4 linked regions of the Homo sapiens genome follow. The protein of the gene in region 2 purifies or fractionates together with the protein of the main gene of each other region. This does not show direct contact. Each region holds a gene or a part of one and is shown on either strand. Other genes may lie near its edges. The genes, in order: PIGR, KCTD21, TIMM50 and ATP1A2.

The links.
Region 1: the proteins of KCTD21 (region 2) and PIGR purify together in Homo sapiens (affinity purification with mass spectrometry, with the first as the bait; one large-scale study listed by BioGRID). This does not show direct contact.
Region 3: the proteins of KCTD21 (region 2) and TIMM50 purify together in Homo sapiens (affinity purification with mass spectrometry, with the first as the bait; one large-scale study listed by BioGRID). This does not show direct contact.
Region 4: the proteins of KCTD21 (region 2) and ATP1A2 purify together in Homo sapiens (affinity purification with mass spectrometry, with the first as the bait; one large-scale study listed by BioGRID). This does not show direct contact.

Annotation. Positions count from the first base shown.
Region 1 is NC_000001.11:206,936,375-206,940,415, reverse strand, and holds part of PIGR (polymeric immunoglobulin receptor precursor), read left to right. Parts: intron 1-952; coding exon 953-1,297; intron 1,298-2,664; coding exon 2,665-3,321; intron 3,322-4,041.
Region 2 is NC_000011.10:78,175,056-78,179,096, forward strand, and holds part of KCTD21 (BTB/POZ domain-containing protein KCTD21), read right to left. Parts: intron 2,931-4,041; exon of another isoform or gene 2,076-2,930; coding exon of another isoform or gene 1,997-2,075; intron 1-1,996. UniProt on the Homo sapiens protein: Probable substrate-specific adapter of a BCR (BTB-CUL3-RBX1) E3 ubiquitin-protein ligase complex mediating the ubiquitination and subsequent proteasomal degradation of target proteins. Promotes the ubiquitination of HDAC1.
Region 3 is NC_000019.10:39,487,174-39,491,214, reverse strand, and holds part of TIMM50 (mitochondrial import inner membrane translocase subunit TIM50), read right to left. Parts: intron 3,155-4,041; coding exon 2,998-3,154; intron 2,677-2,997; coding exon 2,570-2,676; intron 1,497-2,569; coding exon 1,395-1,496; 3' UTR 1-1,394. UniProt on the Homo sapiens protein: Essential component of the TIM23 complex, a complex that mediates the translocation of transit peptide-containing proteins across the mitochondrial inner membrane. Has some phosphatase activity in vitro; however such activity may not be relevant in vivo.
Region 4 is NC_000001.11:160,132,349-160,136,389, forward strand, and holds part of ATP1A2 (sodium/potassium-transporting ATPase subunit alpha-2 precursor), read left to right. Parts: intron 1-2,135; coding exon 2,136-2,272; intron 2,273-2,796; coding exon 2,797-2,947; intron 2,948-3,085; coding exon 3,086-3,254; intron 3,255-3,490; coding exon 3,491-3,645; intron 3,646-3,898; coding exon 3,899-4,022; intron 4,023-4,041. UniProt on the Homo sapiens protein: This is the catalytic component of the active enzyme, which catalyzes the hydrolysis of ATP coupled with the exchange of sodium and potassium ions across the plasma membrane.

The sequences.
Region 1 (4,041 bases), on a different chromosome or scaffold from region 2:
GGACACTAAAATCAGACTCATCCCCAGGGATGTCCCTCTCAAAGTTGGCACTTCCTTGAGGAAGAGTCATACAGAGAAGACACTGAAAGGCCACATCTGTGAGCATTGGAAGTCAGGGACAGGAATGGCACTTCCTAATCTCAAGGCCAGGGGTCTGTGAAAGATCTTCTTTGAGAATAACAAAGACCTTAACTTCAACCAAGCATCTCTATGACCCGCTGTGAAATCTGAGGGAAGTCACTTATCCTTTCTGGCTCTCAATATTTTTATCTGGGGGAAAAAAAAGAAAAGAAAATCATCTACAAAGTGCTTTTAGAAATATAAGGAAATAACACATGGCAAGTGCAAACATGTAACACCTTACGAAAGTGGTGTTATTGTTTGAAAAAACAATGGATGGCTGGATGCTGGCTCACAGCTGTAATGCCAGCACTTTGGGAGGCCAAGGAGGGTGGATTGCTTGAGGTCAGTAGCTCAAGACCAGCCTGGCCAACATGGAGAAACCTTGTCTCTACTAAATAGAAACCAAAATTAGCTAGCATGCACCTGTAGTCCCAACTACTTGGGAGGCTGAGGCATGAGAATCGCTTGAACCTGGGAAGCGGAGGTTGCAGTGAGCCGAGATCGTGCCACTGCACACCAGCCTGGGCGACAGAGAGAGACTTTGTCTCAAAACAATAAAAATATATAAAATAAAAAACAAGGGTTATCATAAATTTGTCATTCCCTTGTCCTTGAAATGGTTATCATTAATGAATAACAATTCCAATTTAATCATGATTAAAACAGTCACTTTATTTAATCTCAGCAATTTTCCAGCTGTGATATATGATAAATTATCAACACAGGGCCTACGTGTCAGGTAGAAAACCACATCTACTCATAGTGGGTTATCTGGAACAGGCTTTACCTCCCAAGGGCCTCAGAAAGCCTCTCTCTTCTGTTCCCACAGCCATCTCCACGAAGAGTCCCATATTTGGTCCCGAGGAGGTGAATAGTGTGGAAGGTAACTCAGTGTCCATCACGTGCTACTACCCACCCACCTCTGTCAACCGGCACACCCGGAAGTACTGGTGCCGGCAGGGAGCTAGAGGTGGCTGCATAACCCTCATCTCCTCGGAGGGCTACGTCTCCAGCAAATATGCAGGCAGGGCTAACCTCACCAACTTCCCGGAGAACGGCACATTTGTGGTGAACATTGCCCAGCTGAGCCAGGATGACTCCGGGCGCTACAAGTGTGGCCTGGGCATCAATAGCCGAGGCCTGTCCTTTGATGTCAGCCTGGAGGTCAGCCAGGGTAAGGATCCAAGCTCCTTGGGCTTCTGGGGGAAAGTTAGAGGGAATTCTCTAAGGTGCATGGAGGGCTTGAGGAGGAACTTCCTGACAAGGATGTGTAGCCGGGTTGGGGGTCAGAAGGCACCCCTTTCCCCAGGCAAAGACTTCTTTAACAGGAGAAGGAGACAGATAGGGCCTACTTGGGGGTGATGAGTGAACCCTTCTAGGACTTGGTGGCCTATAACATTTTAGGCTTTCTGGAGACCCCAGCTTAGAAGGGTATCAGAAGGACAAGTTTTCTGGTGTTTGCTACAGGTAGAAAGGGAAATCTGACATCAGGCTAAGGAGATAGAAAAGGTAGGGAGAGATTTACAGGGATCCTTAAATTCCTATCATTAATGCACCTTTCCATCAAGGTTTGGGCCGCCAAAAGGCTTCTTGTAAAATGCATATTTTTTTTTTAACCTGGGAACCCTTAGTCTTTTGGTATTATCAGGGTAAATTAGATTATTAGATCTTGACCAAAGACCAAGATCCTGAAAGGATGGGTTGCTAACAAGCCTATTCTAGTTGGAGAAAGAGAAAAAAAGAAAAGCTCTTTCTGACAAGGGTTTAACAATGAGGCTGTTTTAGATAGTCAAGGGCAACTCAAAAGAGAGGTCTACGGAGAAAAGAAATTCAGGGGGACTCCCAAAGACATGTCTTGCTCCTTTGGAATATGCATACTATTGTCTGTGGACTAAATGAGGAGGTCATTTAGGTGGGGATCAAGATTCAAAACCACAGAATCTTTAGAGGTGAAGAGGGCTTAGAGTTCACCCTAACCGGACACTTAGAAGAACATGCTGATGACGGGTATGCAGCCTCTGATTAAGCACTTTAGCAGAAACTCACTGCTCCCTGAGACAGCCCATTTCACATTTAGACTCTTGTAATTTTTAGAAACTTCTATTGTATGCGTTGAAATCCATCACCCTGCATTTACATTCATTCTGTTCATTTCAGCACACATTAATTTGGCCACCTACTACCCAGAGGCATTGTGCTTGTCACAGCAGAGGGGTCAAACATGAGAAAAACATGTTCCAGCCTTCAAGGAACTTCCAGTCCATGGAGAACATAATTACCCATACACCAGATTGGATGTAATAAGTGATGCAGATGTATCAAGAAAGCACAGGGCAGGGAGAGATTAGTGTTAGCTTGGGAAAGGTTTCATGGAGAAGACCGCTGTCAAGCTGGGCCTTCCGACAGCATTCCTCTGGGAAGGAGGGCATTCCAGGTTATAAGTCCACCCACACCCTAACTAGGAATAGCAAATAGTCCTATGTTGCAAGAAAGTAGAATCGTAACTTGCCTGCCCCCTACCTTGCACCCCTCATCCTGCAGGTCCTGGGCTCCTAAATGACACTAAAGTCTACACAGTGGACCTGGGCAGAACGGTGACCATCAACTGCCCTTTCAAGACTGAGAATGCTCAAAAGAGGAAGTCCTTGTACAAGCAGATAGGCCTGTACCCTGTGCTGGTCATCGACTCCAGTGGTTATGTAAATCCCAACTATACAGGAAGAATACGCCTTGATATTCAGGGTACTGGCCAGTTACTGTTCAGCGTTGTCATCAACCAACTCAGGCTCAGCGATGCTGGGCAGTATCTCTGCCAGGCTGGGGATGATTCCAATAGTAATAAGAAGAATGCTGACCTCCAAGTGCTAAAGCCCGAGCCCGAGCTGGTTTATGAAGACCTGAGGGGCTCAGTGACCTTCCACTGTGCCCTGGGCCCTGAGGTGGCAAACGTGGCCAAATTTCTGTGCCGACAGAGCAGTGGGGAAAACTGTGACGTGGTCGTCAACACCCTGGGGAAGAGGGCCCCAGCCTTTGAGGGCAGGATCCTGCTCAACCCCCAGGACAAGGATGGCTCATTCAGTGTGGTGATCACAGGCCTGAGGAAGGAGGATGCAGGGCGCTACCTGTGTGGAGCCCATTCGGATGGTCAGCTGCAGGAAGGCTCGCCTATCCAGGCCTGGCAACTCTTCGTCAATGAGGGTAAGACCCTAGAGAGGGAGGGGGAGTAGGTGGGGCAGTCTCGCAGGTGAGAGCCAAGCTCAGCTCCCTCTGAGTGTATTCATCAATAGTCATCAATCAGCCAACAGCATCCACTCAATGACCAGCCCCGAACTGGAGGCTGCGTGGGCTGCTGCACAGGACAGCAAGAAAAAGCAACCTCTGCCTGATGGCAGCTCCTAATTACTCTTCTGTTATCAAAGTCATTTTGATGGCTGTCCCTGCTTAACAAGCAAGAGGTGAGTAAAGCTCTTGATTGAGGCAGGACTTATAGACTGTGTTTCAGGGCTGTGGCAGGCTCTGCAGGGGTCCTCTGTCCCCTCCCCTGGCCCCTGAACAAGATGGGTGCCTCATCCCTCACATTCAGATGGAAAAAGGATTGGCTTATCTTGGTCTCAATGCGTTCCCAGGAGTGCCCCAGCCTCTAAATGTTTCACTGTCACATTTCGTAGGGTTATTTGTGAATTTCAGCACCATCTGGCCCACTCAGCCCTACTCCAGTGAGCCATCAGCATGGTGAAAGAATTAAATCCCAGCTCCTTCTCATCCCAGAGCACCCTGCATAGAGTTGCCCTCGTGAGAAGCAGCAAACCAGTACTTGCAGTTCCAAGTATCTGTGCTTGTGACTTTTTTTTTTTAAAGGGGCTTATATTCTCTGCATGCCATGTCCACATCCAGCTCTGGGTTTTCACCAGAATCCCC
Region 2 (4,041 bases):
CTCACACCTGTAATCCCAGCACTTAGGGAGGCCGAGGCGGGCAGATCACCTGAGATCAGGAGTTCAAGATCAGACTGGCCAACATGGTGAAACCCCATCTCTACTAAAAATACAAAAATTAGCTGGGCATGGTGGTGGGTGCCTGTAATCCCAGCTGTTCAGGAGGCTGGGGCAGGAGAATCATTTGAACTCAGGAGGTGGAGGTTGCAGTGAGCCGGGACTGAACAACTGCACTCCAGCCTGGACAACAAGAGTGAAACTCTGTCTCAAAAAAAAAAAAAAAAAAAAGGTTGTATCATCTTTTGACACAGACAATATAATCATCCATTCCTGTTGTGCAGATGAGGAAAACTGTGCCAGGATTCATTCCTCAAGCTCAGAAAGGTGAAGTGCCTTGCCAGGATTCAAACTCAGGTCCTTTTATATGAAAGAAAAATGTGTAAATGCTTACTAGCCAAAGATCGGTTCTAAGTACTCAACAAATGGTTTGAGATTTATGACTCCAGGCTCAGTGCTCCTCCTTCTGTACCAGTGACACTGCTGAATTTAATTATTATTCTCTCTCAAAGATTTGACAATGAATGGCCATGATTAGTGTCATTTCCATCTATCTTCAAGGCCCACAGTGGGTCACTCAGCTGTCCGGACTGCAAATGACAATCCTGTTTTTTTTAAATTTTTTTAAATTTTATTATTATTAAAGTTTTAGGGTACATGTGCACAATGTGCAGGTTAGTTACATATGTATACATGCGCCATGCTGGTGTGCTGCACCCATTAACTCGTCATTTAGCATTAGGTATATCTCCTAATGCTATCCCTCTCCCCTCCCCCTACCCCACAACAGTCCCCAGAGTGTGATGTTCCCCTTCCTGTGTCCATGTGTTCTCATTGTTCAATTCCCACCTATGAGTGAGAACATGCGGTGTTTGGTTTTTTGTCCTTGCAGTAGTCTTTACTGAGAATGATTATTTCCAATTTCATCCATGTCCCTACAAAGGACATGAACTCATCATTTTTTATGGCTGCATAGTATTCCATGGTGTATATGTGCCACATTTTCTTAATCCAGTCTATCATTGTTGGACATTTGGGTTGGTTCCAAGTCTTTGCTACTGTGAATAGTGCCGCAATAAACATACGTGTGCATGTGAATGACAATCCTTTCTAGACTTTCACTGCTCCCATGCTGACTTGCCTTGCCATGAAGATGCTCTTGGCTCCTGGTGGCCTGTCCTTTGCTGTCATAACACCCCAAGCTTCTCTGAAACTGGCTGCAAGGTCAGTGCAAATGCAGGACTCTGTCAGAGCACTCTCCTGAAGGCACCCTATCCACTCCTTAACAAAGCCCCCCTAATCTCTCAGCTGTCAGCATCTATGGCTGGCAAGTCTCCTTCACCACATGTTCTAGAAAACAGGAGATCTCAGCTCCAGCTTCCAACACTATACTTTCCCCAGAGCCAACCTGTGGACCAGATTCAGCAATCCTTCCCTGACATGGCAGGTAGGGATGCCAAGAGGAACTGGCCCCAGTATTACCCCCAGAAGAGCCTGTGCTGGTAGAGGAGATGAGAGAGTAAAGGCACAGTGACAAGACAGGTAGAAGATGTGGGAGATGGTCTGGAATGAACCTTGGCACATCAAAAACTATCTGGCTGGCAGACACAGTGGCTCATGCCTGTAATTCCAGCACTTTGGGAGGCCGAGGTGGGCAGATCGTTTGAGCTCAGGAGTTCAAGGCCAGCCTGGCCAACATGACGAAATCCTGTCTCTACAACAACAACAACAACAACAACAACAACAACAACAAAGCAGGGTGTGGTGGCGAGCACCTGTAGTCCCAACTACTTGGGAGGCTGAGGTGGGAGGATCGCTTGAGTCTGGGAGGTTGAGGCTGCAGTGAGCCGTGATTACGCCACAGAACTCCAGCCTGGCAGACAGAGGGAGATCCGGTCTCAAAAAACAAACAAAAACCCAACCTTTCAAGCATGCTTACCGTCCAGATGGAGAAACAGAGGTCTGAGGAGACACCTCCCCAAAGTCACCCAGCAGGGGTGGCGAGAACTTCTCAACATTTCTGCCTCCTGAAGAGGCTGACTGCACTGAGGCCTCCTTTCTCCAGAGGATGGGGGCCATGCCAGTGTGAGAGATATTCAGCTGCCATGCTCGACTCTGTGGCAGGGGCAGGGGTATGTCCCCTCATGATTCCTCCCCAGTCTAATGGGGCACTTTGATATTGCAGAAAGGCATTCCCCATCTGGAGTGTCTGAGGAGAAATGAGTCCATGTGAAATACGAAATCGTCAGTAGAAGCCTGGAGCAGATGGGCTGCGAGACGGTGGGGAGGTCCCACAGAGGTGTGGGCGAGCTGCCGCTGGGGGCATGGCTGCTGGTGTGGAGATGGCTGTGAGGCAGCAACTGGGGAGGGTGCTGTGACTCAGGGCTGAATCTGGCCAATTCTCTCTCCAGAGGGCCCAGGCAGGAGGTGGACCCAGGAGTGGGTCCCCTTTACTCAGTCCAGAATCTTCTTCCCTGTTGCCCTCTTTGTAGGACTCTAGTCTACTCCAACTGTTTTCTTCTGGATAGAAATGTGCATGTTCTAGTTTCAGTCTCTCTTTCTTCTTGAAAACAAACACTCCCTCCCAACATTGGGTTTCAGGCCTAGGATCTATAAAGTGGCTTACCTTCACGGCAGGAAAAGAAGCGGGTGTCAGAGAGGACTTGGACAGTTCCATGGGTCACAGACCCTTATCTCTTCCATGCATTACTGCTGAAGTGCTCAGAGCATTACAGGCGGGGGAGGTCAGGAGCCACAGGGCATTCCCTGGGACCCCTGGGTAGGTGCCCAAACTCTTATTTCTCTGCTTGCAAAAGCAGCAGAGCACCTGCTTTCCTGCGCCCCCGATGACGTCATGGCTCCCGGTCATTTGTCTGGGGAGAGCAGCACAGTTGCACAGGCAGTCAGGGCAGAGGCTGGCTAGCAGGCAGGTCTCCTGCTCCGAGTCTAGGGTGCTCTCTGTGGTGATCTCCCCTTACCTATCCAGTCACAGAGCTCAGTCCTCTAAGCCCTTCTTTTCTTTTTTTTTTTTTGAGATGGAGTCTCGCTCTGTCGCCAGGCTAGAGTGCAGTGACGCAATCTCAGCTCACTGCAACCTCTGCCTCCCAGATTCAAGCGACACTCCTGCCTCAGCCTCCCGGGTAGCTGCAATTACAGGTGCACGCCACCAGGCCCGGCTAATTTATTTTTGTATTTTTAGTAGAGATGGGATTTCACCATGTTGGCCAGGATGGTCTCGATCTCTTGACTTTGTGATCTGCCCGCCTCGGCCTCCCAAAGTGCTGGGATTACAGGCGTGAGCCACCGTGCCTGGTCTAAGCCCCTATTTTCTAGCCACAGGGCCACAGTGTCCATCATCACAAATCCACGGCCCTGCTACAAAAGGCAAAATGACATGACACGAGGGGAGTTTCATGAGTCGGCGGAGGTTTGCAGTCAGGTAGTAATGAACTAACACCACTGAGCCTCAGTCCCCTATGTGTTCCCAGATGCCTCCTGGCCACCTCCACTTGGATATTCTGCAAGTGAGGCAGGAGAACAAGGTTTGGAGACAAGGAACTTAAGGCCAATTTGTGCTAACTTCATAAAAGAGAAAACACCAAGGTCTGGGGCAAAAAATCTGAGGCCAATTCTGTTGACTTCCCAAAGCTGGATCAGAAGGAAAATCCTGGGTCTGGGGGCAGGGACCCTAAGACCAATTAACACCAAATTCCTAAAGCTGAACCAAGAGGAAAAACGCCATCGCCCCAGCTGGGTGACAAAGGATCAAACGCTCCTCTTTGCAACCCTCCCACTCCACCATGTCTCAGGTGGAAAGGGAGGGGGGCCTTGGATTGGGACCATCCCTTTATCTGCATAGGGTGCCCATTCACCTCAGCCTTTAATTAGCCACAGACTAAATCCTTCGTCCAGATAAGGAGTAGCTGATAAGAACCTCAAATGGGGTACCTAAAGCCCAGAGAACTTTGTAACTGGGCCTTTGAG
Region 3 (4,041 bases), on a different chromosome or scaffold from region 2:
AGCCTGGGCAATAAGAGCGAAACTCCGTCTCAAAAAAAAAAAACAAAGGTTTATGTGGCCACTGGCTACTGTACTGGACAGTACAGACCTAGAACATGAACCAAACATCACAGAAAGTTCCAGTGGAGAACACTGCTACATATCTGCCTGTTTTAGTTAGAAGCCAACATTTTATTTTTATTTTATTTTATTTTTTGAGATGGAGTTTCGCTGCTGTTGCCCAGGCTGGAGTGCAATGGTGCGATCTCGGCTCACCACAACCTCCGCCTCCCAGGTTCAAGCAATTCTCCTGCCTCAGCCTCCTGAGTAGCTGGGATCACAGGCATGCTCCACCACGCCCAGCTAATTTTGTATTTTTAGTAGAGATGGGGTTTCTCCATGTTGAGGCTGGTCTTGAACTCCTGACCTCAGGTGATCCACCCACCTCAGCCTCCCAAAGTGCTGGGATTACAGGCGTGAGCCACTGCGCCCCGCTAGGAGCCAACATTTTAAAATAGGGAGATTTAATATAAAAATCCCTATTTTAGCTGGGCACAGTAGCTCACACCTGGAATCCTAGCGCTTTGGGAGGCCAAAGCAGGAAGATTGCTTAAGACTAGGAGTTTGAGACCAGCTTGGGCACCAAGACCCCATCTCTACAAAAAAAAAATTTGTTTAAATTAGCTGGGTATGGTAGCACGCACCTGTAGTCCCCAGGAGGGTACTCAGGAGGCTGAGGCAGGAGGGTCACTTGGAGATCACTTGAGCCGGGAGGTCAAGGCTGTTGTAAGCTAAGATCACATCAATGCACTCCAGCCTGGGCAACAGTGAGACCCTGTCTCAAAAAAAAAAAAAAAATATTCCCAAGTTCTTGCTTCTTTTGAACAACTGGCGTGTCAAGCAACTCCAGGCCCCCTTTACCCCAGGGCCACACTGGCTGGAGCCAACCAGCAGCTGGCCTGTTGAGAGGGGTAATCTCTGGTCCACCAGAGGCCCACTAGGCCCATAACACATTCTCTCCACAGTAGCCTGGCAGCTACCTGTCTTTAAAGCCAAGTGCCATCCTCTCTTCCCTTCTCCACAGATGAGGAGTCTGTGGTCAGAGGGAGATGTATTTTTCACAGATCACGCAACACACAGGAAGACACAGCGAGGGTTTTTAGATTCCGAGACCAGGGTGAAAAATCTGCTCTGATCCAACAAAGCACCCCCACTGTGCTTGGCAGCCGATCAGCCACTGTGGGACGATGACCCAAGAGTCCCGGACCTCACCCTGATGCCCCCATCTGGAGACTCTCGGGACACAGCAGGTGTGGCGTCTGGGATGTACTTTATTGGACAAGTGGTGGCCCAAGTCTTGGTCTGGAAGCACTGGGGCCCTGGACCCAGGCACTGAGTTTGAGGAGGCCCAGAGTTCAGGGCTGTTTGGAGCGAGGCCACAAGCGGCTGGTGAGGGAGCCAAGGAAGAGGTTCTGCTTGTTGGACTTGGAGAGCTCGGCCAGGCGCTGCTGCTCCTCCTGGGGTAGGGGGACAGTTGGAGGAGAGGGTCAGCGCAAGGTGGACAGAGCCTCCTCCCAGATGCCCAGGTCCCCAGGCCTCAGCCCAGGGACCACCTTTCCTTCTGACTTCTGCCAAGTCCAGACCCCTTTCCCCAAACCCTGGGGCCCCCAGCCCAGACACAAGGGACCCTAGACCCCAGTCCCCCCACCCCAGACACTAGGAAGAGCCAGCTCTGAGCCGCAGGAGCCTAGGCTTCAATGTTTGGGGGACGACAGACTCCAATACTAGGCACTCGAGGTATTCAGGCCTGAACTGCAGTAGGTTCTCAGGCCCCAGACTGTCATAATCTCCTTCCCCAGATCCCAGGGACCCCTCCCCTGAGCCTGAGATCCTATCGCAGACCCTGTTACCCCAAGGTGAATGCTGGTGAGATCCCAGGTCCAAACCCCATGGCCCTCCTCACCAGACTGCATCATCCTGCCCCTGGGCCCTCTGAGCCCCATGACCCCTCTCTGGATGCAGGGGTGGGGGGTTCCCTGGGGGGTCCCCAGGCCCAAATCTCTAGGGACTTCTCTGGGCACTCAGGGGCTCCCAACTCTAGGAACCTAACCTAGAATCTGGTGAACCTCAGCCTAGACCCCTGGGAATCTTACCCAGACGCAATCCATACTCTCAGTCCCACTTCCAAATTACCAGGGTCCCACCAAGACTATCACATCTCTCCCCACAGCCTTGGGCCACGTGCCCAGGGAGCCTCTTTCCAGGCCTGATCTAAAACCCACAATCCACCTCCACAAGGTGCCCCCAGACCTACTCAAGACCATCAAGGGCAACCCCTCTCCCAGCCTAATCTCAAATCCTCTCCTGTTTCCTGTTCTCAGAGCAGGCTGCAGAATCAATGCATCCCCTCATTCTGGCAGCCCTACAGGACAGGCTGTGTTATATCCCCCTGGTTACAGAGACTGAGGCAGAGAGGAGGTATCTGCTCAGGGTCACACAGCCAAACCAAGAGTGTGGAGATGGACTGCCCCAGGCTCCTCCTTCAGGAGCCTCAGAGCCGATCCTCCACTCTGGGCATCTGAGCACCAACCTGCTCTAGCCGGCTTTGCCGCTGTTTGAAAGCCGCCAGCGGGTCATCCTCCAGGGCATAGTGCTCCAGCACGGTTCGCACGTCCTCCACACCATTCAGTGCAATGGCTGTGGGCACAACAGGGGGTGGTCAGCCAGGCTTCTAAAGGCCAGAGGGAGGCAGGGCCCATGAGGGGAACGTCCCGCACTGGGGCACGGGGGCAGTCAGTGCTACCTGGAATGCTTCTGAACGCTCTGAAAGGGCTCCCCTGAACATCCCCAAGTATCCCCCAAACATTCCATGAACATCCTAAGAAGCTCCTAAAGACTCCAAGGTGCTCAGGCACCTCTTGCACCTCAGTCGCCCAGCCATGAATCATGCATTTATCCTTCCTCTTCAGAGTCAGGGGCTCTGGGGTCAGAGGCCAAGGGATCAGGGGTCAGCCTTACTCTTGAGGAAGGCAGACAGATCCAACAAGACCCGGTCATCAGAGTTGCCGTCCCAGGGCCGCAGGGCAACGCCGTTATAGGGCTGCAGGCGGAAGGCTTCCTTCTTGCAGTCCACAACTACTACTCGAGCTGGGTCCCGATTCAGACATGAAATATCCTGGAAGTGAGTGACAGATCAGGTCAACATCTGTGCCCAACTCTCCCCCCATCAAGAAGACCCAAAACACACAAAACATACATACATACACAGCATCACACATACTGGGATCACAATGGCAGGGCCTCTCAAAGACCGGCTTTGGATGATGGCATCGACCCCCACAGAGGGCCAGGCATGGTGGCTCACGCCTGTAATCCCAGCACTTTGGGAGGCCGAGGCGGGCGGATCACCTGAGGTCAGGAGTTCAAGACCAGCCTGGCTAAAATGGTGAAACCCCGTATCTACTAAATACAAAAAATGGCCGGGTGCGGTGGCTCACGACCGTACTCCCAGAATTTTGGGAGGCCAAGGTGGGCAGATTGCCTGAGCTCAGGAGTTCAAAACCAGCCTGGGCAACATGGCGAAACTCTGTCTCTACTAAAAATACAAAAAATTAGCTGGGTGTGGTGGTGTGTGCTTGTAGTCCCAGCTACTCGGGAGGCTGAGGAAAGAGAATCGCTTGAACCTGGGAGGGGGAGGTTGCAGTGAACCAAGATCGCGCCACTGCACTCCAGCCTAGGCAACAGAGCGAGACTCCGTCTCACAAAAAAAATAAATAAATAAAAATAAAAATAAAAATTAGCCAGGCATGGTGGTGTGTGCCTATAGGCCCAGCTACTCAGGAGGCTGAGGTGGGAAGATCGCTTGAGCCCAGAAGGTTGAGACTGCAGTGAGCCATGTTCATCACACCACTGCACTCCAGCCTGGGTGACAGAGCAAAACCCTGTCTCAGAAACAAAAAACAAAACAACCCCCAGGATATTGGGGAGCTAATCACATAGACTTCTAGACCCAGGGCCTAGCACACAGAGAGGTGATTAGGAAGTTCCCTGGAGAGGGAGGTG
Region 4 (4,041 bases), on a different chromosome or scaffold from region 2:
TGTCACGGGGGAGGTTGAGCTTTTAGGAGACTACCTGGTTTGAGGAGGGACTGGATTTGGGGAAGAACTGGAGTCAGGGAGAGACAGGTTAAGAGGCCATTGCCATAGTTCAGGCAAAGAATGATGACCTGAACTAGGGCAGAAACAAAGGGAATGGAGAGGAATAGCCATGTCTGAGAAATGTTTTGAGAACTTGGTGACCAAACTGGATATGGAAGGTGAGGAAGATACAGGAGAGAAGGGGACAGGATGAATAGAGAGGACAACATCTAAGGTAGGGAGCAGTAGCAGGCTTGGTGGGGTGGCAGGAGTAGAGAAAAGGAGTTCAATGTTGACCTTAAGCTTAAAGAGTCTATAAGATACCCCAGGAAAGACAGATGTTCCAGTGAACATTGGAGTATGGTTTAGAGCTCATGAAAGATGGTCAGGACTGGAGATTTGAATCTCATTAGCACAAGGGTGCAAACTAAAGGCTTATAGTATGTTGTATTATATTGCCCAGAAAGAGCAGACAGGTCAAGTGAAGGGAGGAGAATGAAATCCTGTGCCAAACCAACATTTAGGCACAAGAGGAACCAGTGAGGAGGGGAGAGGGTGGTAGGAACCAATGCCATTTAATCTTCATGACCACCTAGAAAGGCAGGAATCATCTCTGCATTGTGCTGAGACCTCAGTGCTTCACTTGCCTAAGGTGCTGTAGCTGGAGAAGGTCGGTGTTTAAACTTGAGCCCCTCATTCAACTCCAAAGCCACTGCTTCTTCCATCCTACTAGGCTGCCACCCTGAGAGGCTGGGAAAGAGCATGCAGAGGAGTGGAGGGAAAACAGGAATGGAGGAGTATGTGGAAGCCAGGGGAGGGCAGGGTTTCAAGGAGAAGAGGTCAACGGTGCCAAATGCCTCAGAGGGGTCAAGTAGGATGAGGACGGCAAAGACACTTTTCATTTTTCAATTGAGAGGCCCCTGTGGCCTTTGGGTGGCAGTTTCAGTGAAGTGGTGGGAGTGGAAGATAAGGCAGTGGGGACCATGGAGGCTTCCTTTTCAGTATCCATAGGACTTGCCCTGCAAGCCCACACATGCAAATGCTATCCTAACCCAACTCTGCTCACCTCATAGCCTCTTAGCCCATCAGATGCCAGCCACCCTCCCCATCCCAACTCCATTCACTCTGCAACAATAGCAATGAACATTATGGTGAAGGTAGGGACCACCGTGCTCACCAGGGAGGATGTCAGAGGCAGATGCTCAAGGTGGTGGAGGCAGGGGTGTTGTCTCCATCTTATTCCTGTTCTGTCCATTACATTGCTGCAGTGATCAATATTTGACACTAAGAACCTCATGTCCTATATCCAGGTCCCTGTGCATTTGAGCAAATTGTAGCCCCTCTCTAAGCCTTGGTTTCCTCATGTGTAAAATAAAGGAGTTGTTAAAGGGTCCTTCCAGCTCTGACTGCCTTGAATCCCATGAAATCCAAAATCCTAAAATATCTCCTAAATAATCCTAAAGATTTGAGGCTTCTCTTCCAGGGGATCCTCATGAACTTGTTACTCTGTTATGGATACTTTCCTGCACTTAAGCAAACTATCTCTCTCTAACCCTCTGAACATAACTCAACTTGCCATTATCTTTCCTCCTCACCCACCCACTCAAATTCACACAGACACACACAAATCCCCACCTCACATACACACACATCCCACACACACACATAGACACACACAATCCCCACCCCCCACACACACATCTCACACACACGCACACATACACAAATCCCCACCCCACATACACACACACACACATACCCCACACACACACACACATCCCACACACACACATTCCCTCTCACACACACACACAATCCCCACCCCCTCACACACACACAATCCCCACCCACACACACACACACACATCCTACACACACATACACACACCCCACACACACACACATACACACACACACATACACCCCACCCCAGCCACTCCCCTGCCCACAGACGCACACACACATGCCCTTATTTCGGTTGGGATCTGCCATCCCCAGACATCTCGCTATCTAGCTTTCTCTTACTTTGGGAGAGGAACAGGAGGGGGATAAACCCTTAATACTACTTTCCTGTTGTCTCCTCTCCTTCCCACTAGGTGATCATGGTAACCGGGGATCACCCTATCACAGCCAAGGCCATTGCCAAAGGCGTGGGCATCATATCAGAGGGTAACGAGACTGTGGAGGACATTGCAGCCCGGCTCAACATTCCCATGAGTCAAGTCAACCCCAGGTGAGGCCTCTGCAGGAAGCCCCTGTGCCCTAATCAACACGTCCTCTTGCACAGAAGGCTTGGGTGTCCCCTGGGAGTATTTGGATAGCATTTCTGGGACCTTTATAGGCCTTACCTCTGACACTATTGTGACTGGTTCCTCAGCCCTGAGCTTGTATCCAGGCTGTGCCACTGAATACCCATGTAACCTTGGAGATGTCACATTCCCTTCCTGAGCCTCCATTTTCTCACCACAAAATTAGGATGCCATCTCCACTGCTGTAGGAGTGGGATGTGAGTAAAGAAACTAGCCCAGGGCCTAGCAAACTGCACTTACAACTGCGATGATCCCATGGTGAGGATTTAGACTCACATTCTCAAAGAGAAATGGGGGAAGTGAGTACTGAGGAGAGGAGAACTGAAGCAACAGGGGAAGCAGGCTCAGCAGGGAGCCTGCAGGCTGCGGTGGTGAAGAGAGGCAGGGGGCAGGAGGGGCTGGTACAGGTGCCAGGGGTCAGCTGTCTCTGTCCCCACCCACCCTCCAGAGAAGCCAAGGCATGCGTGGTGCACGGCTCTGACCTGAAGGACATGACATCGGAGCAGCTCGATGAGATCCTCAAGAACCACACAGAGATCGTCTTTGCTCGAACGTCTCCCCAGCAGAAGCTCATCATTGTGGAGGGATGTCAGAGGCAGGTGAGCACAGCCACGGGAGGCAGATGACAGGCAGGGACCGGGGAGGCAGGGACAGGGCCAAGACAAGCATGGAGTGAGAGGCGAGGAGCCAGGCTTGGGAAGGGGTTTCGTCCTCAAGTGTGGCCGTCTTCCCTCCAGGGAGCCATTGTGGCCGTGACGGGTGACGGGGTGAACGACTCCCCTGCATTGAAGAAGGCTGACATTGGCATTGCCATGGGCATCTCTGGCTCTGACGTCTCTAAGCAGGCAGCCGACATGATCCTGCTGGATGACAACTTTGCCTCCATCGTCACGGGGGTGGAGGAGGGTGAGGAGGCTGCATGGGTTGGGATGGTTTGCAGGATACTGAAGCCGGCACCTCTGTTCCCTGTCCCTTTACCCCAGTTGAAGAATCATTCCACAACTCTAGGCAGCCCAGCCCACTTTAGCTTCCCTTGAACACAAAATCTTCCTCTCTTGGGAAGACAGGCAGCCATGCTTCAGGGGCTGGGGGTGGGGAAGAGTCCCTCTGACCTCCCTGATGCCCTCAGAATCTCCCCACAGGCCGCCTGATCTTTGACAACTTGAAGAAATCCATCGCCTACACCCTGACCAGCAACATCCCCGAGATCACCCCCTTCCTGCTGTTCATCATTGCCAACATCCCCCTACCTCTGGGCACTGTGACCATCCTTTGCATTGACCTGGGCACAGATATGGTGAGCGCAGGAGGTGGAGGAGGGGACAGGCAAGGCAATCGTGATGGCACAGTGGCAGGGAGGAGAGGTGCACTGGGGCAGTGGCCCCAGCTGTGGGGGTTACAGGAGACAGGCACAGGCCTGGAAGACAATGGGGTCTGAATACACGCTTTTTTAACTGTGTCAACGATCGTCACTGTCGAAGATCAATTGCTTCTGTCATCTCCTACGTCCCTTCAAATGCCCTCCCTGCCCCATTTCCTACCCCACACAGGTCCCTGCCATCTCCTTGGCCTATGAGGCAGCTGAGAGTGATATCATGAAGCGGCAGCCACGAAACTCCCAGACGGACAAGCTGGTGAATGAGAGGCTCATCAGCATGGCCTACGGACAGATCGGTGCGCCAAGCCCCGGGCC